Homo sapiens: one gene and its partners. The protein of the gene in region 2 purifies or fractionates together with the protein of the main gene of each other region. This does not show direct contact. Each region holds a gene or a part of one and is shown on either strand. Other genes may lie near its edges. The genes, in order: SPTY2D1, ADARB1, GZF1, PUM3, CCDC137, GLYR1 and DDX56.

Region 1 (3,500 bases), on a different chromosome or scaffold from region 2:
CAGTGGCATGATCTCGGCTCACTGCAAGCTCCGCCTCGCGGGCTCACGCCATTCTCCTGCCTCAGCCTCCCGAGTAGCTGGGACTATAGGCATCCGCCACCATGCCTGGCTACTTTTTTTGTATTTTTAGTAGAGACGGGGTTTCACTGTGTTAGCCAGGATGGTCTCGATCTCCTAACCTCATGATCCACCCCCCTCGGCCTCCCAAAGTGGTGGAATTACAGGCGTGAGCCACCGTGCCTGGCTAATTTTTGTATTTTTTGGTAGAGATGGGGTTTCACTATGTTGGCCAGTCTGGTCTTGGACTCCTGACCTCAAGTGATCCACCCGCCTTGGCCTCCCAAAGTGCTGGGATTACAGATGTGAGCCACCACGCCCGGTGAAGGGTTTTTTGTTGTTGTTGTTGTTTTTGGAGATGGAGTCTTGCTCTGTCACTCAGGCTGGAGTGCAATGGCATGATCTTGGCTCACTGCAACCTCTGCTACCCAGGTTTAACCCATTCTTTTGCCTCAGCCTTCCAGTCTTTGCTGGGATTACAGGCATGTGCCACCACGCCTGGCTAATTTTTTTTTTTTTTTTTTTTTGTATTTTTAGTAGAGATGGGGTTTCATCATGCTGGCCAGGCTGGTCTCGAATTCCTGACCTCAGGTGATCCACCCACCTCGGCCTCCCAAAGTGCTGGGATTATAGACATGAGCCACCATGCCTGGCCAAGGGTCTTTTATCTCAGCCATGTGGTCTGAGCCTGGTACAAAAAAATAAGGAAGTTAATTTAAAACAAAAGGTCATTAATTAATAGGTCATGCTCCAAGACTCTGTCTCCAAAGTCAACCTCCTCAGGGCTGAACAACCTTTAGAAGCCCCAAATAGACTCTCCATTTTCTTTCACAGATCTGAAGATGACTTGTCTCATGTCTGGGGCAGTGTTGGATTTCTAGCCTAGAGCAGTACCTCTCAACTAGTGTTTTAGGGAGAGGGTCTTTTAGAAACTACTGTTCACCTTTTTCCCATAGAGGTTCTGTTATTTCCCTTCCCCATCACTACCAAGATAATCTCTTTCTGAATAACAATTAACCTTTATAGTGCATACTCTGTGCCAGGCACTGTTCTAAGCACTTTATATATTAATTTAATCATCATAATAACCATATAATGAGCAGTATTTTACTAATGAGGAAACTGAGGCCCGTAACTTGCCCATGGTCACAGAGCTAACGCTAGATATGGTAGAGCAGAGAATCTAATCCAGGCAGATTAGCTCCAGAGTTCTTGCTCTTAATCATGAGCTTGTGTTGAATGAGGGGCGTGTACTGAGGATGGTATAGTGAGGAAGGTTGTTACCTACACAGCTTGAACCCATCCAGTTCCCTATCCCCAACTCCAGCCTTAGGCAGTAACTCTGTTTTTTTTTTTTGTTTGTTTGTTTTGTTTTTTAATGACATTCTTAGTATACAGTAGAGTCTGATGGGAGACAAATGTAAAGGCTGAACCAAAATCATTTGGAAACTGATAGGCAGAAGGATATTTACAGCTTGTTTAGGACAGTGCCAGCATGGTTAACAGAAGTAGAGTCTGAAGGTGAGGGAGGATAAGATAGAAGTTTGGTTGTAGACCTTTCTGAAGTACTGGCATTATCCAAGAGGCAGGTGGAAATTAGGGAAAGGAGGTTAGAACTAGAGATCCAAGTGTTGGAGTTAAATTAAAAACTAGAGATGAAAGTGGTGGAGCCAGGCATTGTGGCTCACGCCTGTAATCCCAGCTCTTTGGGAAGCTGAGGTGGGTGGATCATGAGGTCAGGCGTTCGAGACCAACCTGGCCAACGTGGTGAAACCTGTCTCTACTAAAAATACAAAAGATTACCTGGGTGTGGTGGCAGGTGCCTATAATCAGTCCCAGCTACTTGGGAGGCTGAGGCAGGAGAATTGCTTGAACCCAGGAGGTGGAGGTTGCAGTGAGCCGAGACCACGCCACTGTACTCCAGCCTGGGCAACAGAGCGAGACTCCATCTCAAAAAAAAAAAAAAAAGAAAGTGTTGGAGTTAAATTAGAAGTGACCATCATGGGCAACAAAGTGAGACCCCCCCCCCAATCTCTACAAAAAATACAAAAATTATTAATAGCCAGTTGTGGTGGTGTGTGCTTGTAGTCCCAGTTACTCGGGAAGCTAAGGTGGGAGACTCACTGGAGCCCAGGAGTTTGAGGCCACAGTGAGCCAAGGTCATGCCACTGTACTCCAGCCGCCTGGGTGACAAATCAAGCAAGACCCTATGTATTTCTAAAAAAAAAAAATGAGATGTGTTGTAGTGAGAATATTTTGGGGCTGAGTTAGGCGATCTGGATTCTAATTCAGACTCTGCTATAAACCGTGTGATTGCCAGTAAATACACAGGTGTTCTGGGCCATTTCTAACATAGAGGTTGGACTGGAGACTCCATGAGACACCTATCTGATATTATTACATTTTATAATCAGGTATGTTTTTGTAAACACAATAACAGTAAAATTTACATTTAACTCCATAGCAATTATGAATAGCATCTTTTGGGGCAGGTTATTAATTTTTATCCTCTTAGCCATCCAGCTAAGCAGTTCTAATGGAACCATTGGTTTTCCAGGCCTACTTTCTTTCTCTGACTCTGATGTTCTGAGAAAATTTTTAAAAACTGTGGTGATTATTAAAGTTAAGGATGCAGCATTCTTTGAATATTCCTAACTCCTAATTCTAACCAGTTATAAATCTCTTATGTAAAGCCATCAAGAAATTTATATTTTCTACAGTCGAAACAATATGTTATCTCCTGGGTAAAGAACAGCTTTCATGGAGGAATTGACTTTTTTTTTTCTTGAGACGGAGTCTCGCTCTGTCGCCCAGGCTGGAGTGCAATGGCGCGATCTTGGCGGACCACAACCTCTGCCTCCCGGGTTCAAGCAATTCTCCTGCCTCAGCCTCCCTAGTAGCTGGGATTACAGGCAATGCGCCATCCCGCCTGGGTAGTTTTGTATTTTTAGTAGAGATGGGGTTTCTCCATGTTGGTCAGGCTGGTGTTGAACTCCCAACCTCAGGTGATCCACCCACCTCAGCCTCCCAAAGTGCTGGGATTACAGACGTGAGCCATCACGCCTGGCCAGGGATTGACTATCGATTCCAACATAACATACAGTAGTCGGTGTACACATGTTTCTAGACTAATGTCTCCTTATTTTCTTAATCTGGCTTAGATGATACAGTTTAAATGCAAGGAACAGATATGTTTTAAAGTGGCTTAATATTTTCTAAAGCTCTTGGCTTCAGAGTTACAAATCTTGGCAAAATCTCTGATGTTGTATTTAAATGACAAGCTTCACTGTGGTGGATCATTCATTGGGGTGTAGCAGAATGACTGAGTTGGCTTGCAGTGTAATAAAATGGATATGCTTAGGATAAAAGAAACTCTTGTCCAGCTGCTTTCCATGAAGCTCAAACAATGAAGCAGCCTGGTGCCTTGACTCAGATTCAGAATT
Region 2 (3,500 bases):
TAATTCAAGACAACTAACACAGTCTAGTCCCCCTAAGACTGAGGAAACAGAGAAAGGGATCAATTCTAATCCCCTGGAGTTTCACGTTTTCTCTTGGACTCTGAATCCATCATTCCACCTCTCTCAATCCTGCCTCCTAAGCCCGCTTAACCCCTAAGGCCTAGGCCCTCCCTTCCTATACCTCACCTCTTTCCACAGTTACTGAGTCAAAAGAAGGGACAGGACTCTCTGCCAAGTGCCAGCCTCGCGTGAGCCTCGGCAGCCATGGCAGGAAGTGACGTAGCACCACCTACCATTAGACAGGACTACACATAGGTTCTATGATGAGTATTTATTGGACAACTGAATGAATGATTATTTGACTCTGACTTACAATAGTCTTCCAGAAATGGAGAGAACCTCGGCAACAAGCAATTCAACTGCCCTCATTCTACATCCAAGGAGCCTGCAGCAGAGGCATGAAGAGAATGCACCATCCTGTTCAGAAGCAGGGCTGGGATTACAATCCTGATCTCCCAAATTCTGGGACACTTTCCTGTTTGCTCCTTCACCAAAAACAGCTTATAAGAGATGCTTTTTTGGCCAGGTGCAATGGCTCCGCCTGTAATCCCAGCATTTTGGGAGGCCGAGGCAATTGGATCCCTTGAGTCCAGGAGCTCGAGACCAGCCTGGGCAACACGGTAAAACCCCGTCTCTACAAAAAATACAAAAATTAGCCGGGTGTGGTGGCATCCACCTGTAGCCCCAGCTACCTGGGAGGCTGAGACTGAGGCGGGAGGATCGCTTGAACCCAGGAGGTTGTGGCTACAGTGAGCTATGATTGTACCACTGTACTCTAGCCTGAGCAACAAAGCAAGACGCTGTCGCAAAAAAACAAAAAAGATGTGTAATTCCTTTAAGCCTCCACAGTTGAATCAAATGTATTTTTTCATTTTATTTGGCTGCCTTTTCCTGAATCCTCCCAGAATTATTCGAAATATTCTTGTTTCTGTCAAGATGTAGTTATAAGTATTATTTCAGAGAATGCATTTCAACTGTATCTTGTCCAAAAGGGGTTAAAATGATGCTGGCAGGACAGAGCTACTTTTCCAGGATGTGGCCTCCCTGTTTTCAACAGATAATTTACTATGTCAAACTTTATGGTTTTATAACAATTTTGAATGTTTTATAAATGTTTCTATTCTACATAGAAAAGTGTGGAAATCTGGAGATAACACAGACATATGGGGCATAAATATATGACTGATTCACCAAGTACAATAGGATGGGGGGGCAGTGTAGGGAGGCAGCAAAAGCATACGTTTTCAGAAGCAGATAAACTTAATGCAGGTTCTACTACTTACTACCAACAGAAAAAGTAAGTTAAAGTTATTCTCTCCTTCAGCAAAGGCTTACAAGTGTCTATCTACCAGGCATTGCTCCGAGCCCTCAGGACAGATTCAGAGCAATAGCCCTGCCTTCCTGAGGCTTTCATTCTGGCCAGGCAGGCTGTGTGGGGAGGAAGGTAGTGGTGGGTACAGATGGCAGAAATAAACAGAACAGTGAGCAGGGCACGCAGCACACAATGGTGCATGAACACTGAAGTGAGGGCTAGCTATAGGCCCCAAGACAGCTGGAGCCAGGGCTCTGAGTGGCAGGAAGGGACAGCAGGAAAGAAGGCCGCAGGGGGACTCTGAGCAGGAGAATGACGTGATGTCTTCCATGTACAGGCTCAGATCCGACTGCTGGTCAAGAACAGACTGAAGGAGACCAGAAGTGGAAGAAGAGATCTGTTAGGAGGCTACTCAGGTAAGCCAGGCCAGTGTTATCAGTAAAAAGGGATGATGACAGTGACCCTTAATAGCAACATCCTAAGATCATCATGAGGATTAAACTAGATTAAACTCACTTTACCATGTCTGACACATGGTAAGAGCTTAATAAATGTTAAACATTATCCAGCTTTCCTAGGAAGTCACTGAGCCCCTTAGCATCAGTTTTCTGATCTGATAAATAGGGGTAATGAGACCTCCTACAAGAATGTCATGAGAGGAATAACTGACTTAATTACAAGGACCCTGAAGAAGAGCCAGTTCTACCTAATAAAAGTTTAAATGCACGTGTCTGTGTTTTACAAACAATGCATTACAAATTTTGTAGGCCGTGGGAAGGTACAGACAGACGCTGGCTTACAACAGTCTGACTTATGATTTTTTTACTTTATGATGGTGTGAAAGTGATACATATTTAATAGAAAGTGTACTTTGAATTTTGAAGGTTAGGTGTATTAAATGCATTTTCAACTGACAATATATTTAAGTTATGAACCTCATCGTAAGTTGAGAGGTATCTATACAAACAAATATTCTGCTAGTCACATATTAGATGACAACTGCTTTGCAGACTCAAACAGAACCCAATACAAAATGAGGTCTCTAGTTGAAGACTCCTAACCTGAGATCCTCTGGAACGTGGCATCATCACATCATCACCATCCAAAGAGCTCCAAGAGCCCTTCTTGGTCCCTCCACTTCCCTTGTCTCCAAGACCTGATCTATTGCCCACAACCAAGAATTCACACCTGCTCTCTTTTCTCCAGTTCTGCCACCTCTGCCCCGCTAAATCATGGCAACAGTGCCAACCCAGGCCTCCATTCTTCCTGTTGCACTCTTGAGAGTCTGCAGGACCTGGCCCCTGTGTCTCTGCAGCCTCACCTCCTAGCCCCTGACTGGACAATGGTTCTGGTCCTATCCTGGCCACTCTAATAAGCAGGCTCTCTGGCAGGCTATCCTTCTAGCCAGAAGGCTGTTGTCCCCCCTCCTGACATGAGCTCATGCTTTCCCTCTGGGCCTCAGCGTACCACATCGCACTCAGAGAGGCCTTCCCAGAACATCATACCTCCACCAGGAGCCACCCTCTTGATGCCATCTACCTCAGCCCTGTCTCCTCGGTCATGCCAATAAAGACAGCACAGGTGCTCCTTGACTGACGGTGGAGTTCCGATCCTATGAACCCATCGCAAGTTGAAGACATCCTAACCTGAAAAAGCATTCAATACACCTACCCTACCAAACATCAAAGCTTAGCCTAGCCTACCTAAAAGGTGCTCAGAACACTCACATTAGCCTACAATTGAACAAAATCATCTAATACAAAGCCTATTTTATAACAAAGTACTTAATATCGCATGCAATTTATTGAATGCTATGCCAAAAGTGAAAAACAGAATGACTGTATGGGTACCACAGTCAAGTCAAAAATTGTTACTGGAACCATCATAAGCCGGGTCCGTGTGTAGTTGTGAGGCACGGTGTCTGCCTCTGTGATCTGTTTAGTTTCTCCACCAGAATGTCAGTTCAAAGAAGCACAGACCTCCTCCCTGTCCTTCTCCACCGCATCCTCCCACGATGACTCACACAGAGCAGGCACTCAGGAAAGCCTGCCCTGAGAGAAAAGAGCAAAGGGAAAATGTTTCCACAGCAGTGGGAACTACTCTCCACTGCACAGATGATGGAGAGAAT
Region 3 (3,500 bases), on a different chromosome or scaffold from region 2:
AATCCCTCCAGTAGGTAACAAAATGATCTATTGTTTCAATTCCTTCTGATCAAGTGACTTTATTCCATAAAACAGTACATCAGCTGGGCAGGTTCGGTCTCCTCTGGATGTATGACAGTCATTATTTATTTGTGCTGTAAACATAACTAGGATACAGTGACACTGTCATAACTAAATTTGAAGTAAATTAGTACTGTGACCTCCAAGGGCAGGTGTGAAGCATGTTATCAGCGCCTGAAACACCTTGTAGTGGTTTCACTAACATAAGTTAAAACATAAGCACTTAGGAAGAAAGTCTTCCCTCATTAATTTCTGGCATAGTGCAGCTACATGTTCATTCTGGAACTTAAAGTACCTTCCTCTTAGAAAATCAAAGTGTTTTCACAGCAAGTTTAATAAATTAAAAATGTAGAGAAAAAAGGAACTAGTGAACAAAAGAATTCTCCAAGGTTCCCTTTTTAAATTAATGTTTAAATGTTACATGTGAATCATAGCATTTCACAAGCACGTGGCACATACTCAAGGCCCTAGAACCAAATGTCAACGTTTAACAAATACAGCAGAATCGTCTTTTCATTGTGAATTTTTAAAAGCAATAATTAAGTCCTGCATGAAACAGCCAAAGAAGCATTTGGGACAAAGTTACTGGTTCTTCACAATCAACTCTTTAAGGCATAATCGGAGGTAAGTGTGCTGAGACTTTTGGTCCCTACTGCTATGTTCTCACATGCTCCCAAGGAAATAGACATGTCAGTTACTTGCCTGTTTCCATCTCTAGGTGTGGAAATGAGAAGTCTGGGTTTCTGGAAATTACAGAAATCAAGTCAGAAAAACCTGGCAAAAGTAATAATACTCTGTGTTCTATAATTTGCCACAGTCACCTCATTTTGCAAATAAAATGACTACACAACTTTCAAGTACTCTAAAGCGTCTTAATTTTTCATGCCTCTGCAAAAAAATACTATATTGTTTTGCTAGACTCTTTGGTAGGACAGCTTTTACCTAATCTGATTTTTTTAAGACAAACTGAACAGCCTCATCTCATTTCTAAGTTGATTTTATGACAAACTTCCTAGCTGCGTATGTGCTGAGATTACGCTAGCAGTTTTGCAGGTGTTCAATCTGTCAGTCATACTTTGTTTACTGCCTACAAATGGGGGGTGGGGAGGAATGAATGCAACAATCTATTTCTTCAGTTGCATTTGAGGGTCCCCACAGAAAATCTGATTTGCTTCAATTCAACAGGGAAGAAATGACTGAAAATATGTGGCCCCAGTTTTATTTCAGCTTGGAAGAAAAATACCTTGAAAGTAGTTATGAGAGAAGTAAACCCACATGGAAATATAAGGCAGAGTGAGAAGCCAGGAAGACTGCTAACTACAATATCAGGAGCTGGTTCAGTTCTCTGTACTCTGCAATTAAGACCAGCAGTTATCTATAAACTAGGTAATCAAGAATTAGAACGATTAGCACATACACCCTACACCAGAATTAAGTGAGGTTATGTTCACTGCCTTTTTGTCAATAAAGTAGCTGAGATCATGCAGATCAGGATTTTTGAGGGAAAGCTTTAAAAATGCTGTGATAAAGCCGTGCAAGTTAGCAGAAGTTCAGGAAAATCTGCAGAGGCCATTCTTGCCCACATCTTTGCACATGGACAATTATTTTTCTTAGCCCCACATCATCTTGAGTTCAGCTACCACACACGCAGACTAACAGGATGGGAACTGCTTGAAGCTCTTATTCCATGTTGCTCAAAGAGTGAAGCTGTGTGGGCATCGAGTCTGTCTGTGGGGTCAGCTCGCTAAGCTCACTGATGGTGGTGGCCAGGAGGGTGTCCTGGGACACCACGGAGTCATCTGCCTTGCAGGCTGTGTCAGCAGAACTGTTCTCCTGCATGGTAGGTACAGTGTCTTGGACTGCAGCCAGGTTGTGGAAATGGCCATTTTCTGCAAAAGACAGCAATTTATCCGAAAGCTTGGATGACACATACTCTTCGTCAGGCTGTTCAGTCTTGTGTCCGTCATCGTTCTTGGGCGAGCCATCTACAATGACAAGGAAAGACTTCCATGGAGTATTCTTATCGTGTATCTATAAGTTAAACACAAAACAAAGGTCACTGAATGTGTCTCTGGACAAGTGCATCTTTTAAAACAATAGTCCCTCTACAACTTCAATTTTCAACTTTCACTAATAAGTACCCGCCTGCCACCACCCTCACTGTTACAGAGTAGTCATCGTGGATGGTGCTTTCCCTGGGCCTTGGGGCTTGGTGTTCCACTTCATTCATTCCGTGAGCGTTCCACTGCAGAGACAACCCAAGGAGAAAGTACCTGTTGTCTCGACCTCTAACCACCTTGGAGAATGGTGGTAGGTATTTCTCTTTCCGTGCATCTAAGGGCAGCAGCTTGTTTCTCAAATAAGCCAACCCACTGCTTACTGAGGTGTGCCGCCGAAGAGTGGACTTGTCGGTGAATGTCCGTCCGCACGCATTGCACATGAATGGCCTCTCCCCTGTGTGGATGCGGCGGTGGCGCTGGAGGGCGTTGAGCTGGGTGAACTGCTTGCCGCACTGGTCACAGCAGTAGGGACGCTCCCCTGAGGCAGGGAGAGAGGAGACTGCTGGTGGGTCCCTTTGGCCTACTGTGCTTAATTCTGAATACACACTTGAGTGAATGATGCTGTTGCAAACCACTGGGAAGCCTCAGCATCCAACATAAGGAAGGTTATGTTGGGAACAACTTAAGGGCTACAAATCCACTATCTCTATAATACCAAGAATTTATGGCCTACACCAAAAAGGGGCCAGGACATGTGCCTGCAGCAGGTATTATAACTATAGGAATGACACCTGTTTTCCATGGTAATGGAGTATAAAATTACAAGACCCCTAACAACTGAATATGCATGTGTGCATGTGCATTTACTAACATGTACAGATCATTATCCCTATGTCCACACATCCACATCCACTTCCTACATTCACACCATGACTAAGCTGTCTGTCCTTTTCAGTAAAAACTCCATGTAGCAAAGGGACTTAGTCTTCTCCCGTTTACACACATAAGTGCTCCCACTTTTCAGTTTCTCAGAGTTAGAAACAATCTCTAAAGAAATGCTATTATGACATACAAAGTTTGGCCAGTTTTCTTCAAAAGCTTAGTTCCAAGTAATTTACTGGTAAATCTACAAGCTTTAGAATTTTTTTTTTGGCCAAACTAAACTCCCTTCCCTGGGACATTCCAACCATACCTGTGTGGACTTTAATATGCTGGTACAGTGAATTCCGCTGGGCAAAAGTCCTGAAACATACTTCACATTTAAAGGGTTTGGATCCAGTATGGATTCTATTGTGGTGTTTTAAGTACTCCTTAGAAGCAAAACTCTTGCCACATGTTTCACACATAAAAGGTCTTTCACCTACATGAGAAAATGAAATAAAGTCATAAACAATACAGGCATTAAAAACACATGGAACAGTAGGTCTCCACTGTTAAAAC
Region 4 (3,500 bases), on a different chromosome or scaffold from region 2:
AGGTAAAAAAGTCCAAGAATACTTTATGCACCAATGAGTGCTTAATCACAGCTTCCCTGAAAACAGAAAAAAAAAGCAAAAAGACACAACAGATCTGGCACTACAGTCATACAAAGACAGGTAATCTCAAAGTCCTAAAGTAATCTAAACAAGTGAAATGGTTTTACTGAATACAATTTGTCATAAAATAGACTGTATTTTTCAGAAATACTAAAACTTAAACAAAAATTTAGATGGTAAAATTGATTTAGTGCCATCTACAACCAAGACCAGAGTATAAACTTCTAGTATTTAATCGGCAAACATAAAATCAACATTTGAAATATGCTCTGCTCTATTAAATAAGGACATCTACATTTTTTCCCCCAGCACTGGACATAATGATTAGAAATCCACATGTGGATGTATTTTTTTAATAGTTGTTTTATTTCTGTTAACACCCTTCACAATCCATCTGTTTCACAAAATAATTTTAGCAGAATTAAAACTTGAATGAACCAAACATTGTCAGCAATTGCAACAACACCTACTTAATCCAAACCCCCTAGTGTGACACTTGGTGGATCCAGGTGTACAGTGGAGGCCGATGGTCAGGCATAAAAGACCTAAAGTTCACAGGTGATACCCAAGTAGACAGCAAAAACTAACACTGCCTTTATGGGCAAAGCACTGTTCTGAGTGTTTTGGAACAACCAACCCATTTAATCTTCACAAAATTCCTATGAAGTCTGTACTATTATTATCCCAATTTTACAAATATGGTAATTGAGGCACAGGGAGGTTAAGTTGCCAAAGATTGCAGTTAGTAATAGTTGGGGGAGTGGGGAACCAGGAGTCGTACCCAGGCAGTCGGGTCCCAAAAGCTATGCTCAGCCACTCCACTACTGGACAGATGCCATGAAGGGCACATGCACAGGCTTCCAAGTCTTACAATCCATTTTTTAATTTTTTTTTATTTTTTTAAAGCAAGGTCTCACTCTGTTGCCTAGGCTGGAATGCAGTGGCACAACCATGGCTCACTGCAGCCATGACCTCCTGGGCTCCAGTGAGCCTCCTGCCTCTCAGCCTCCCAAGTAGCCAAGACTATACACACATGCCATAAAGCCTGGCTAATTTTCTTATTTTTTCGTAGAGATGGGGTCTTGCTATTGCCCCAGATGGTCTTGAACTCCTGGCCTCAAGTGATTCTCCCAGCTTGGTTCCCCAAAGTGCTAGAATTATAGGCGTGAGCCACTGTACCTTGCCTACAACCAAATTTGAGTAACAGATTATATTTGTGAAACTGTTTAGTATACATGGCTTCCATGTAACATTTTATTTGGGGAAAGAATGTTTCATTGCTTAAAAAAGCTCATAAATCACGAATGCATGTTAGTTATCATTTTATAGGGTACAATATCAGAAAAAGAAATCTCCTTTTGCACCAAGAATGGTTTCAAACCAACACTTTTGCACTCTTATTTAGAATAGATTAATACTTGTAAGCAGGAAATAGCTACCTCTTCTGGGCAACAGTTATGGAAAACCTTCCTCCTTTGAATGTCATTTCTTAAGAACAAAACAAAAACAACTTTCTTACTTTTGGGCCATTGGAGTTAGAATCTGTTTCATTTCATCCATAATAAGTTCTAATTTTTCTGGCTGTACCTCTAACACTTTGTCCAGAGTTCGGTGATCTGCTGACTGCAACAAAACAAAACAATCAAACCCCTCTAAATTTAATCAATTTTTTCACTTCAGGAAAAAGAAAAGTAATTAGTCATTTTAAAATAAGTTTTAACAAATTTAAGATTTCCCATATTTACATAATGAAAGCTCTGCTGTATATCCTTGTGGAGTAACCTGATTAGCTGATTCTCAGTCTGTGTATCTATCAGTGCATTTAAAGAGCCAGGCCAACCAAGTTAACCAGCTAACAGTTACTTGCCAAGCACCTAGCTCTTGCCCAATTATGAGATCAAGTAGTCACTTCACAAATTCTTGCCACCATATGTTTTATAATTAGTTGGCTATTCCTATTAAATATAACGAACTGTTAACAAAATTAGTACAGCAACAAATTCAACCCAAGAATTGAACCTGGCTAATGGAGGCAACCCGGGAATCAATCCATATCCCTTCAGACACATGTGTGCATTTATGTTCCAAGGTTTGAAATAGATTCTTTAACCAGCTAGTCCCACTGCTAACTATTCTCAGATTCAATCCCTGTACTCTATCCAAGGTTAGGTCTCTCTGTTCCCCTTCATCTCCAGACACAATCTGAAGAAGGGCAATGCATGCACATGAAAAAACACAGGAGAAGCTAGCAACAGAGAGCCCAATACACTTCAGCCAGAGCTGGTTGGGGGTGGTCACACAACTTTGCTAACTATTGGGAGTCTTGTCCTTCAGTATGACTGTAAAAATAGAAGTATTGAAGTGCTACACACAGAGCACTCAGGAGAGGAACAAAGTTTGAATTGAAGGGGATTTAAAGCCAATGCTCTGGAGAAAGAGAAACTTGCTCACTATACCAGAAACAAAATAAAGCATGAGGGAAAATCAAGGGCATAAGATGGTCTCTTAAAGAACCAGCCACAGTAAAAATACATTCAAAAGATATATAGGGCACCGGAAGTTAAGGAAGAGCATATCGAAAAGTAAAAATACTAGAAAAAGACTTCTGGAGATGTCACCTTGTAAAGCTGAAATGTGTTCCCATAGAGCTCTTCCGTCAGCATGTTCCTCTGCTCCAAAATGGCTTTGTCATTGTATGCGTACTCCACGATGGCTGATGCTTCCGCATGCCGCAGCATCTTCCTCACGTGGCCTTTAAAACTTCTGATTATCTCTGCAATCTGTGGTTTACTTCTAAACGCAACACAATCATGGAAAAATAAATGATAGAAGGAGAAAGCTGGGTGACAATAAAACACAACTTACTTCTCCCAAGACCAACTCATCAATCTGTGTCACTCTGAGGAGTAAATGAGCTAGCATGCATTGAGAAGCTGTGGCCAGCACATAGTAAATGCTCAATAAATGTCATTTCCTATTAAACTGTTCTGCTCGAAAAAAACAGTAGGGCAGGAAAAAAGATAAAAGATTCAAGGAAATAGAAAATCATATTCTAAGATTCCTTTTGAAGATGGGACTTAATCACAAGTATTTTAACTATATCCTAAAAGAATTAAACAGCTGGAAACTACAGCTAGGAATACATTTTTGAAAATTTTGTCAACTGCATATATTACACTTTTTGTTGTTGATTATCATATTCTAGCACATTAATACACTCAAAAAGATTGGTCAAGACAAGTACTAATTCCACTTAATTTAGGAAATTCTCCCATGTTGACATTTTCTAACCCACTGACCCTCTATCAGTTTACTCACCTGTCCCTCCCCAGTCTCCACCCTCTTAATACTGGTGGCTAATTATAAGTTAATTATTCTATTTCTCTTCTTCCAGAGGTTCAAGATAAACATTCACAAATCATCCATCATGTAAAATTATT
Region 5 (2,332 bases), on a different chromosome or scaffold from region 2:
AAAAATTATTTGGGTGTGTTGGTGAGCACCTGTTGTCCCAAGTACTTGGGAGGCTGAGGTGGGAGGATTGCCTGAGCCCAACAACTTGCTGCAGTGTGCTTATGCCACTGCACCCCAGCCTGGGCAACAAAGAGGCCCTAAAAACCACCAGGGGTTTCCCTTCCAGCAGCTAAAACCTGAGAATCATGGATGCAGTGGAGAGCATGAGCGCTTTCCCAGCCCTGTGGGATCCCTTTGCTTAGCCATACACGGGCCGATCTGACACCCAAAACCAAAGGCATTGAGCGAGTGGGAGTGCCACCCGCTGCCGTCCCAGCCCTTTCCCAGGGAAAGGCCACCCCCTTCCAGCTGCTGCTTGTGATCTGGGGCTGAGTTCTGGCTGCTGCAAAAACAACATCCCAACGCGAGGGCTGGGGCCGCCAGGTCCATCACAAGGTGGGAAACATGCCCATAAGAGGAAAACAGCCCTGACTTTAAATATATATTCTCCAATTTAAAACTTTTAACTAAAAAGTAAACTTTAATGTCGAAAGTGCAAACTTGGGGAAGGCAGAAAACATCACACACAAGGCTGTCACTTCACACTTGGAAGGTTGCACAGCGGCCGGGCAGAGGCGCTCCTCACTTGCCAGACGGGGTGGCGGCCAGGCAGAGGTGCTCCTCACTTTCCACACGGTGTGGGGGCCGGGCAGAGGTGCTTCTCAGTTCCCAGATGGTGCTGGGCTGTCGGACTCCATTGCTGGATGTGTGACTTGGGTTTAAGCTTCTCCCTTCTGCTCTCATCTGGAAATGCTGACAGCCTGGGCATTTCCTCCTTTGGCACTGGAGACTGAAGCCTGGCAAGGCCCTGCCCTCAGCAGGAACTCCCCCTGGGCCCCACTCTGTGACCTTGAGCCCAAGACAGGATTTTTCCTTTACCTTCTTCCAGCCACTTTGGGCCTCCCGGCTCTCTCAGAGCCCTGTTAGGTAGGTGACAACTCTGTTCCCACTGTTTTTTTTTTCTTCGTGTATTTTTAGTAGAGATGCAGTTTCACCATGTTGGCCAGGCTGGTTCGAACTCCTGACCTCAGGTGATCCACTCGCCTCAGCTGCCCAAAGTGCTGGCATTACAGGTGTGAGCCACCGCGCCCGGCCCCCGGTTCCCACCTTCTTAAGTGTATGTGTTGTCATCATGTTTCACCCCAACCAAACCTTGGGTGGGCAGCCTCTGTAGGGGACCACTCACAGCTGGCCTGTAGTCACGGTCCCCTGCAGAGCCCTGTCCCGATGCGTCGTCCCTGCCCGTGGCCTGCTCTGCCTGATGTGCACTGTACGCTCGGCTCTGCTGACTCCCGGGGGCCTCCGTCACACACTGAGCCAGCCTCATCAGCTGTCTCGGTATTTGGTGTTCAGGGACAGGGATCCAGCCCTTCCTAAGGTCCACCTGGGCTGAGACTCAGAATGGACGTTCAAAACAAAGAGATGGAGCTGTGAGTGACACCGGGCCCCACGGGCCGTCTGTCAACCAGGCCTTGGCCCTAGTCCATCGGGCACTCACCCCCTGCAAGATGTGGACCCACTAGTGCCCAACGTGTGAACAAGTAGCTGGAGGCCTCACCCCACACTGCTGGCATGGCCTGCCTCTCTCCTACCCAGGTGTAGCAGCTCCTGGTGCCAGTTGCCCCAGAGCGTGGCCAGGCCCCGGGTGTCTCTCCATCACAGCTGCGGCTCTGGCTTCTTCCGGGAAGTGAGGTGGGGTCGCTCCCCGTGCAGCTGCTGCTGCCGCTGCTTCAACGCTCTGTAGGCCTGCACGGCCCGCTCTCTCTCCTCCTCCACAATCCGCTGGCGGGCCAGGGAGGCGGTCAGAGGCTGGGACACACCACCGGGGCTCAGAAGCATCCGCAGCATCTGCGATCTCCTGCCAGGCTGAGGGAGAGAGGGGAGGGTGAGGCACAGGCTGGGAAAGGAGGGGATGCAACAGAAAGCCTCACAGCTTCAACAGCTCTCCCGCCAGCGAGAACACTGCACTCTCAGGCCACACACCAGACAGCGCACACGTTGGCTGAGGGTTTTTTTTTTTCTTGACACAGGATCTCGCTATGTTGTCCAGGCTGGTATCAACTCCTGGGCTCAAGCAATCCGCCTGCCTTGGCCTCCCAATGTGCTGGGATTACAGGTGTGACCCACCGTGTCCAGCCTGTCCAAGGCTTCTGTTCCCTGGCAGCACTGGGGGACAAACTCAAGTTGTCCCCGTGCCCCACTTACCTGGTCCTTGCTTACGCTCCTCTGGGGCCTGGCAGTCAGCTCTGGGGGCTGCAGGACAACCTCACCAAACTTCACCGTGTCTGGAGGA
Region 6 (3,500 bases), on a different chromosome or scaffold from region 2:
GGCTCATGTGATCTTCCTGCCTCAGCCTCCCAAAGTGCTATGATTGCAGGTATGAGACACCACAACTGGCCTTCCCAGCTTCTCTTGAGAAAAAACAGACAATTTGGCAGAAGCTGGCTAGAACCCTGTGGACAGAGCATGACCTCCCCAGACTCCCTGACCATGGCCAGCCCTGCTGCTCTGAGCACCAAGGCAGGTCAGCTGGGGTGCCTGGCACCCGTGCCACTGCTTCTTAGGTCCAGTCAGCTACAGTTGCTTCCATTACCTGCCTGGGCTCGCTGGTGTCTGAATTTTTGAGCCTTGATCCAAGGTCTAATGTTCCATCATGGCCTCGTCACCCAACTGTTGCTGCCAGCCATCTGGCTTCTGTTCTCTTTATCCTGCTGTTGACAATCCTACCGCGTTCCTGACACAGTCCCCTTCACTTTGAAATTCTTCTCTGTGGCCTTGTAAGACCGGCCCCAAATCTTGTCAGCAAGAAGGCGAGAGAGGCACTCTCACTGCTTTATCTCATCTTGCTAGCTCCTCCTGCTCCTTCCTGCCCCAAGCACGGCATTCTTGTGGCAATGCAGGCCTCCGCGCTTCCCTCTTCTCCCTCTCTTCCTGAAACAAACCCATTCCACTGCCCGGACTCAACTACCCTTTTACAAATTCACCTCCCAAATCTACATTTCTAGTCCTGAGGTCACACCAAGCTCCCAGGCTGTCTAGGCCTTGCCTCAAGTTCTTGACATTCCAAACAGAACTGGTACTCTTTCTCCACAAGCCACCTCTACATCCCCAGTCCTCTACTTTTAAGAAAGTGATGACCACTTTCCCAGGAATGAAGATGGAAATCCTCTTTTCCTTTTTCTCATTCATCCTCTATATAACCAATTATGGAATCTTAAGAACTCTTCCTCTGAAGTGCCTCTCACCTCTTTGCTTGCAACATTTGCAATTACCCCCTTATGAATGCACGCCTAGACTTACCTCCTAATTGGCTCTGAGACTTTCCCCTCTGCACTCGGTGACTACTGGTGCACACACGGGAGGCACACACTGCCACTGGCTCAGTCACCTTCCCGGGCCCCCACTGACTCCAAGACGCTTTAGTACCACGCTGCTTCAGTAGACCTTCAGGCCCTCCACGATCCAGGGACAAGCTTCCTTTTTCTCGGCTTTCCTCACTATCCTCTCCCTGTTCGAGAGTATCTCCACCAGCACCGAGCCTCACACGGGCTGTGCCCTCCATCTTTGGAATGCCTACCCTTCTTTCTTGCTAAGCCCCTCCCAGGGCCAGCCCTTGTGCACCGGCTCAAGTGGACTGCTCTCCTGCCTCGCGCTCCTACTTTACACCTGCATCCAGGCCGTGTCTCTCACCTGGTCTATGGGATTCTTTATTTTTTAATTTTTTAAATAAGATTCGGGGTCTCACTCCATCACCCAGGCTAGAATGCAGTGGTGCAATCGGCTCAATGCAACTTTGAGCTCCAAGGCTCAAGCCATCTTCCTGACTCAGCCTCCTGAGTTGCTGGGATAAAGCATGAGCCACCGCACCTGCCCTGCAGGATTCTTGAGCACAGAATTCTGCTCCCACTCCATGAGCAGAGTATAGATAAGCATACTACATAAGCATACTGTAGAGCTTAACTCTACCTTGTACTAAAAGGACATCACTAATCCCGGAAGCTGCAGAGAGAAAACAAACCTTCTCATCCTTTGGGGGCCGACCCCGCTTCCGGGGACTTTGCTCTTGGGCTCTTTTCAGAGGGGATTTGGAGCCTCTCTCTGAAGAGCCTGAAGACACCCTCTTCTTTCCTTCTCCCATGTTCTTCTTCACCTTCCCTTCAGACAGGCTAAGTTTGCGCTTCTCATCACCTGAGTTTGGCCTACTTCTCTCCTCACTGGAATTACGTCGATTCTTGTCATCAGAAGAATTGTGGGATGACGTCTGAAAGTTTAATAATAATAATGATAACTACCACCACAGCTGCTGCCGCCATCGCCACCATCATTTACAGGTGCCATGTGCTGCTACAGGCACTCTGTGTGGTCTCCTCACAATGACCCTAGAAATAGATTCTGCTGTCGTCCCAGACATTGGGAGAAGCAGATTTAAAAAATATATATATCAAAAGTCACTTTCCCTATGTCCCAAAACTAGAAGAAAGGATTTAAATCTAGGCAGTATATGTATTTCAGAGGCTATGCTCCTAATCTGTGTGCTATGAAAGGAAGAAATGGCCTGTGCTAGACTCAAATGCTGAGATATTTCTCCTGGGTCCAAGCAATTTTCCTAAAAGCAACAACCTACTCCAGAAAGGTTAGCTGCATGGAGTTTCAAACTGATAAGCAAAACGCTGACACCTTAGAACTGAAGTAGCTTTCTCCAGTAGCATTTCAGAAGAACAAAGGTTTGCGTTTGGGTGACATTTAATCTGTTAGTTGCTATGCAAAAATCACCAGTCTGGCATTGGTAGAAAGTGAACATTGTGTCTCTCACCTGGTCTTTCCCTTTGGCTCTCCTGAGGAACTCTTCGACAGCATCTACCGCTTGCTGGAATCGTTTACCCTTGTTAATTTTTATCATTTCCTCTTTATGAGCATGATATGGCTTCAGCTGTTCCACTTTGATCCAGGCACTAGCAGAAAACAAACACAAAAAGGGTGTGAACCATATAGCATATGCCCTAAAGTATCAACAACCTCACTATGGCACGGTGTAAATATCCATTTGGTTTAACTGGACTTTGCAATAGGCCTTGCCATTTCTTTCAAAACATGCTATCAACCATCTCAGAGTCTTATGTCTAAAGTATATTTTCTTGAAACAAGTCAAGCAGAACAACCATCACCACCACTGCAGCAACCACAAATCAAGTTCCTCCAGTGAAAGCACTGTGTTGCAGATTATTTATTTCCACAATCGTCTATCAGCCTCCAATGCCCAACCACATATACGCTGCCACTTGCTCAGGGCAGAAAGAAATCTGGAGACCCTTTCCCATTCTCACCAGGCAGCACAAATGGCCACACACAGATCCCTGGGAATCAGGGTACCTGGAAATGTGATAGATGATAGCAGCATTACTATGCAGGAAAATGCCTGCTGCCTGTCAACAATGGGAACCAGATTTATGATCTGTTGATCCACAGAGAGTCAGGGATGTTACAGAGCTGAAGAAATGCAACATCTTCTAAAATTTGTGGTTCCTATGGATATTCACAGCCACTGAGCCTATATTTGTTCATAAATGATGGTAACCATGGCTACTAAACCACACAAAACACGGAACACATGGTTTGGAATAAGGGCAGCAGTTACAAAAGGAGGCATTTAAAAACAAGATGGCATGCTGTTTTATGATGTCTCAAAAAAAAAAAAAAATAGAAACAAGATGCTTGAGATTAAAGGTAGAAGAACATACACCTCCGATATGTAATTTTTAATTTCAACCATCAATGTGTAACACATGAAAGTGAAAGTAGTCAGCTGTCAATTCTGGGGTTTCTGATCT
Region 7 (3,975 bases), on a different chromosome or scaffold from region 2:
GCTCACTGCAACCTCCACCTCCCGGGCTCAAGCAATTCTCCTATCTCAGCTTCCTGAGTAGCTGGGATTACAGGTGCCTGCCACCATGTCCAGCTAATTTTTGTATTTTTAGTAGAGACGGGGTTTCACCATGCTGGCCAGGCTGGTCTTGAACTCCCGACCTCAGGCGATCCGCCCACCTCGGCCTCCCAAAGTGCTGAGATTACAGCAGGCATAAGCCATGGTGCCCGGCCATGATAGGTATTTTGGAGTTGGGAGAAGTCAGTATCAGTCACATCTAGAACCTGGCCCCTACTAAGTGCTTAAGAAACAGAACATTAACTGGGTCCCCTTTCCATCTCTATCTTCAACTTATTTCAACCAAGATGTTGGCTGTGGCAGACCTGGAGCGCAGTGGAAGCTCTCCATTGAGCACACAGGTGGGGATGCTGAACTGTTCCAAGAACAGGCGTAGCCGGTAACTCCGTTCTAGAGTGTTGACAAAGAGCAGAGACTTGCCCCGAATCAATGACAGCTTGAGCAGGGCATACAGCAGGAGGAATTTGTCTTCCTCAGTCTCACAGACCACCTGAAACTGCTGTAACTGGTCTGGCCCAGGCAGCTGGGACTCCTGTAACTTAAGGGTAACCTGGGGGAGAAAACAGGCCTGTGGTCAGAAAGGAAAAGAACACAGAGATGTATGGCCACTTACTCACCAACCAAAGCATCAACATTTTAGTGCAGGGCAGAGATGCATTTAAGGATTCCTGGCACCCTAACTCTCCTCCAGTTTTGTAACCTAAAACCCCAAAATGCCCTTATTGTTGTGGTATATAGAGTATACCATATAAACCATATATAAAATACTTCCAAGCACAGAACAAAGAGAAACACATCAATAAAGGACTACATTGAGAAGGGAAGGCCTACAGCAACAGGCCTTCTGAAAGGTAAAGTTTACTTAAGATGAGAACCTTGGCCTTAGAATTTTGGCTCTGCTGCTCAAAGCTGCCCCTTAGGGGAGGTCCTTGCTCAGGATTTTAGGCAAAGCATGGCCTGAAATGGGAGACATCCCTTGTGGACACTTGGAAATATATAGTGATTTTAGACCACTGGCTTTTAGTGCCTCAGGACCAGGGATGAGACACTAAGTGACAACTGTCCCACCCAAAACACCAAAGAATCCCCTAAGAAGGAGCATCAAGATCTTTGAGTGCCCCCATGTCTGCAGCTCCAGACACTTCCATGGTGCCTCTTACCGGGTTATGTAATATCAGCTCCTTGAGTGCTTGTACGTCCTCGTTAAAAGTAGCTGACATGAGAAAAGCCTGGTAAATCCGGGGCAAGTGACTGAAATGAAAGAATCCAATCAGATTCCAGCTCCAAGGGCCGCTAATTGTAGTAACTGGCTTCCAGCCACCCCGCTCTCGTCCCAACTCCTACTCACAGATGTTTCCACTAGGAATCACACCCACCTCTGCCTTACCAGAGGAGACTCTTGAGCTCTTCTTCAAAGCCAAAGGAAAAAAGAAGGTCAGCTTCGTCCACCACCAAAAGCTCCAGGGAGTCACGAAGTTTCAGGCTGTCTTGCTGCAAGTGGCTTAATATGCGAGATGGGGTCCCTACTACCACATCTGGCTTCTCCATCAGCACAGCTCTGGAGGTGGACAAGACATCAGTATCAGGCAGAATGTAGCAGCTGGGATCTCACCCTGGATTTGCTCTCTTTTTTGCCACACACAAACCCAACCCCACAACACTGTGTAGCTTCATTCAGGTACAGCTTTGCTGCTTTTACCCACCTCTGAGAGACTGAGTCTTCAGCAGCTGAGACATTGGCCACTCGGACATCCCGAGCACAGTAGGTAGCCAGCTGCTGAATCATGGACTGTGCTTGCCGTGCCAGCTCCTTGGTAGGAACAAGAACAAGGCCTCTCACTGCCTGTTCTACCACCGGACCTGTCTGTAAGAATATGAATTAAAGACTTTAGCCAGCAGTGCACATCACTGTGTCCACGTGTCTCTACCCCTTCCAGCCTACCTGACCCATCTGCTGCAACACTACTTAGCAGTACTTTGATCATCTATCACTCTGCCCGCCTCAGAATGCAGAGTGGAGAGTTCTTTCCCCAGGCACTGACCCTCAAAAAGAATAACGTACTCTGATGTTTATGAAGCTACTTTAAATATACTAGTTATGAAGCTAAATTCTCACAATAATTCTGTAAGTAGAAAAGATAGATGTGCTCCCTTTTTATGTAAGAAAGAAAAGAAAGTGCTTTGTCGAAGATTACGCAAAGGTTGGTGGTAGCAGGGCCGGACAAGGATCCAGGTAACCTGAACTCCAGCCCAGAGTGTTTGCCACAACAGCACCAGGTTCTCAGGCCGGCCTGCACGGGTACAGGGCCAAGAGAAAACCTCAGACAAACGGGAACCGCCCTTCCCAGGCTTTTGGAGCTTGCCTCCTTCCTCCCCTCAGCTCTCTCGTTACCCACCGCCTTCCTATGGAGCAACAGCTGCAGCATCGGAATAGCATAAGCGGCCGTCTTCCCGGAGCCCGTGCGGGCCCGAGCCAGGAGGTCCTTCCCTTCTAGGGCCAGTGGGATGGCCTTCTCCTGGATCAGCGTAGGTCGCGACCAGCCCAGATCGGTGACAGCCTAGGAGACCAGGAGTGCGGTTTAAGCGGCGTGAAGAGCGATGGCGCGCCCCGCAGAGCCCGTAAGCCGGCTCCCCAGCCCTCGCGTGTACCTGAAGGAGCCGGGGATCGAGGCCCATGTGTTCGAAGCCCAGTGCTTCAGAGTCCTCCATGGCGCTGCTCAGTAGCGCAGCACGCACGCGCTGCAGGAAAAACGCCACCGACGCGAGCGGGAGCAAAGCAACAACCAATCGGCTTCGGAGACGAAGTCACTTCCCGGAAGTGCTGGCGGCCTAGGCTTCCGGTACTCGGACGGAGCTCTGCGACTGCGCAGTCCCTAGGACTGGGTCTAGTAGGAGGCGGTGGAGCGGCCGTGCTGGGGTCGACGGGGTACTTTGGACTACAGAGCCGCTCCACTGGCTCTTCCGGCGTTCCCGGACGCCGCTGACGCACCTGATTCTCGCGACCTGCAGGAGAAGCCTCGGCCGGGGCGAGGGCCGAGGTCGTGACGGGCATGACCGTCTCTCTGCTTGGTTAGGGTTAGTGTCCCGCCGGGCACATCACCCTATGAATGGAGCCACTGAGATAGACTGGGCTGAGGAGAACCGGTTGGAATAATGAGCCATGGCAGCAACTGCCTGAGAGAGAGGACCGGCGGGTTGCTGTAGGGCTCCCTAACCGGACTGCCTGTCAGAAACCTGCACAGCTTGGTTTCTGTTCTTTGTGTCCCAAATCTGACTCGGGTCACCAGTTAAGACCCGTGTCAGACTTCTGACCTACAGACTTGCGTCGTTTTAAGCCAGTAAATTTGTGGTAATTTGTTACAGTAGCAATAGGAAAATAATACAGGTGAGGACTAAGAATCCTAATCACAAATCTTTTTTTTTTTTTGAGACATGGTCTGACTGTCACCCAGGCTGGCGCGATCTCAGGCTCAAGTGGTCCTCCCACCTCAGTCTCCTGGAAAGCTAAGACTACAGGCACGCACCACCACGTCCAGTTAGCGTGTATGTATGTATGTACGTACGTGTGTGTGTGTGTGTATGTGTATATATGTAACTCCTCCTCCCCTCCCCCCTCCCCTTCTCTTCTTTTCTTTCTAGATGGGGTTTCGCCACGTTGCCCAGGACGGTTTTGAACTCCTGGGGCCAAGCGATCTGCCTTCCTCGGCCTCCCAAAGTGCTGGGATTGCAGGTGCGAGCCACTGCTCCTGGCCCATAAGTCTTTCAGTGTAGAAGAGGGAAGCAGAAGAGGTCAAAGTGGTGCCATGTGAGAGCTCAACCCACCCTTGCTGGAGGAAGGGAGCCAGAGCCAAGCTGGAAAAGGCAAGGAAACAACCTTTGTGATTACATTAGGCCCAT

Evidence for each region.
Region 1: the proteins of ADARB1 (region 2) and SPTY2D1 purify together in Homo sapiens (co-immunoprecipitation; 2 studies listed by BioGRID and IntAct, with this or other methods). This does not show direct contact.
Region 3: the proteins of ADARB1 (region 2) and GZF1 purify together in Homo sapiens (co-immunoprecipitation; 2 studies listed by BioGRID and IntAct, with this or other methods). This does not show direct contact.
Region 4: the proteins of ADARB1 (region 2) and PUM3 purify together in Homo sapiens (affinity purification with mass spectrometry; one large-scale study listed by BioGRID and IntAct). This does not show direct contact.
Region 5: the proteins of ADARB1 (region 2) and CCDC137 purify together in Homo sapiens (co-immunoprecipitation; 2 studies listed by BioGRID and IntAct, with this or other methods). This does not show direct contact.
Region 6: the proteins of ADARB1 (region 2) and GLYR1 purify together in Homo sapiens (affinity purification with mass spectrometry; one large-scale study listed by BioGRID and IntAct). This does not show direct contact.
Region 7: the proteins of ADARB1 (region 2) and DDX56 purify together in Homo sapiens (affinity purification with mass spectrometry; one large-scale study listed by BioGRID and IntAct). This does not show direct contact.

The regions. Positions count from the first base shown.
Region 1 is NC_000011.10:18,624,343-18,627,842, reverse strand, and holds part of SPTY2D1 (protein SPT2 homolog), read left to right. Parts: intron 1-3,500. UniProt on the Homo sapiens protein: Histone chaperone that stabilizes pre-existing histone tetramers and regulates replication-independent histone exchange on chromatin.
Region 2 is NC_000021.9:45,081,080-45,084,579, reverse strand, and holds part of ADARB1 (double-stranded RNA-specific editase 1), read right to left. Parts: intron 1-3,500. UniProt on the Homo sapiens protein: Catalyzes the hydrolytic deamination of adenosine to inosine in double-stranded RNA (dsRNA) referred to as A-to-I RNA editing.
Region 3 is NC_000020.11:23,368,682-23,372,181, reverse strand, and holds part of GZF1 (GDNF-inducible zinc finger protein 1), read right to left. Parts: intron 3,421-3,500; coding exon 3,253-3,420; intron 2,599-3,252; coding exon 2,441-2,598; intron 2,092-2,440; coding exon 1,741-2,091; 3' UTR 1-1,740. UniProt on the Homo sapiens protein: Transcriptional repressor that binds the GZF1 responsive element (GRE) (consensus: 5'-TGCGCN[TG][CA]TATA-3'). May be regulating VSX2/HOX10 expression.
Region 4 is NC_000009.12:2,827,096-2,830,595, forward strand, and holds part of PUM3 (pumilio homolog 3), read right to left. Parts: intron 2,854-3,500; coding exon 2,679-2,853; intron 1,684-2,678; coding exon 1,580-1,683; intron 57-1,579; coding exon 1-56. UniProt on the Homo sapiens protein: Inhibits the poly(ADP-ribosyl)ation activity of PARP1 and the degradation of PARP1 by CASP3 following genotoxic stress. Binds to double-stranded RNA or DNA without sequence specificity. Involved in development of the eye and of primordial germ cells.
Region 5 is NC_000017.11:81,672,068-81,674,399, reverse strand, and holds the end of CCDC137 (coiled-coil domain-containing protein 137), read right to left. Parts: intron 2,325-2,332; coding exon 2,245-2,324; intron 1,906-2,244; coding exon 1,696-1,905; 3' UTR 501-1,695; downstream 1-500.
Region 6 is NC_000016.10:4,830,289-4,833,788, forward strand, and holds part of GLYR1 (cytokine-like nuclear factor N-PAC), read right to left. Parts: intron 2,625-3,500; coding exon 2,486-2,624; intron 1,934-2,485; coding exon 1,691-1,933; intron 1-1,690. UniProt on the Homo sapiens protein: Cytokine-like nuclear factor with chromatin gene reader activity involved in chromatin modification and regulation of gene expression. Acts as a nucleosome-destabilizing factor that is recruited to genes during transcriptional activation.
Region 7 is NC_000007.14:44,571,109-44,575,083, forward strand, and holds the start of DDX56 (probable ATP-dependent RNA helicase DDX56), read right to left. Parts: upstream 2,801-3,975; 5' UTR 2,788-2,800; coding exon 2,728-2,787; intron 2,637-2,727; coding exon 2,475-2,636; intron 1,943-2,474; coding exon 1,782-1,942; intron 1,637-1,781; coding exon 1,466-1,636; intron 1,330-1,465; coding exon 1,239-1,329; intron 629-1,238; coding exon 384-628; intron 1-383. UniProt on the Homo sapiens protein: Nucleolar RNA helicase that plays a role in various biological processes including innate immunity, ribosome biogenesis or nucleolus organization. Plays an essential role in maintaining nucleolar integrity in planarian stem cells.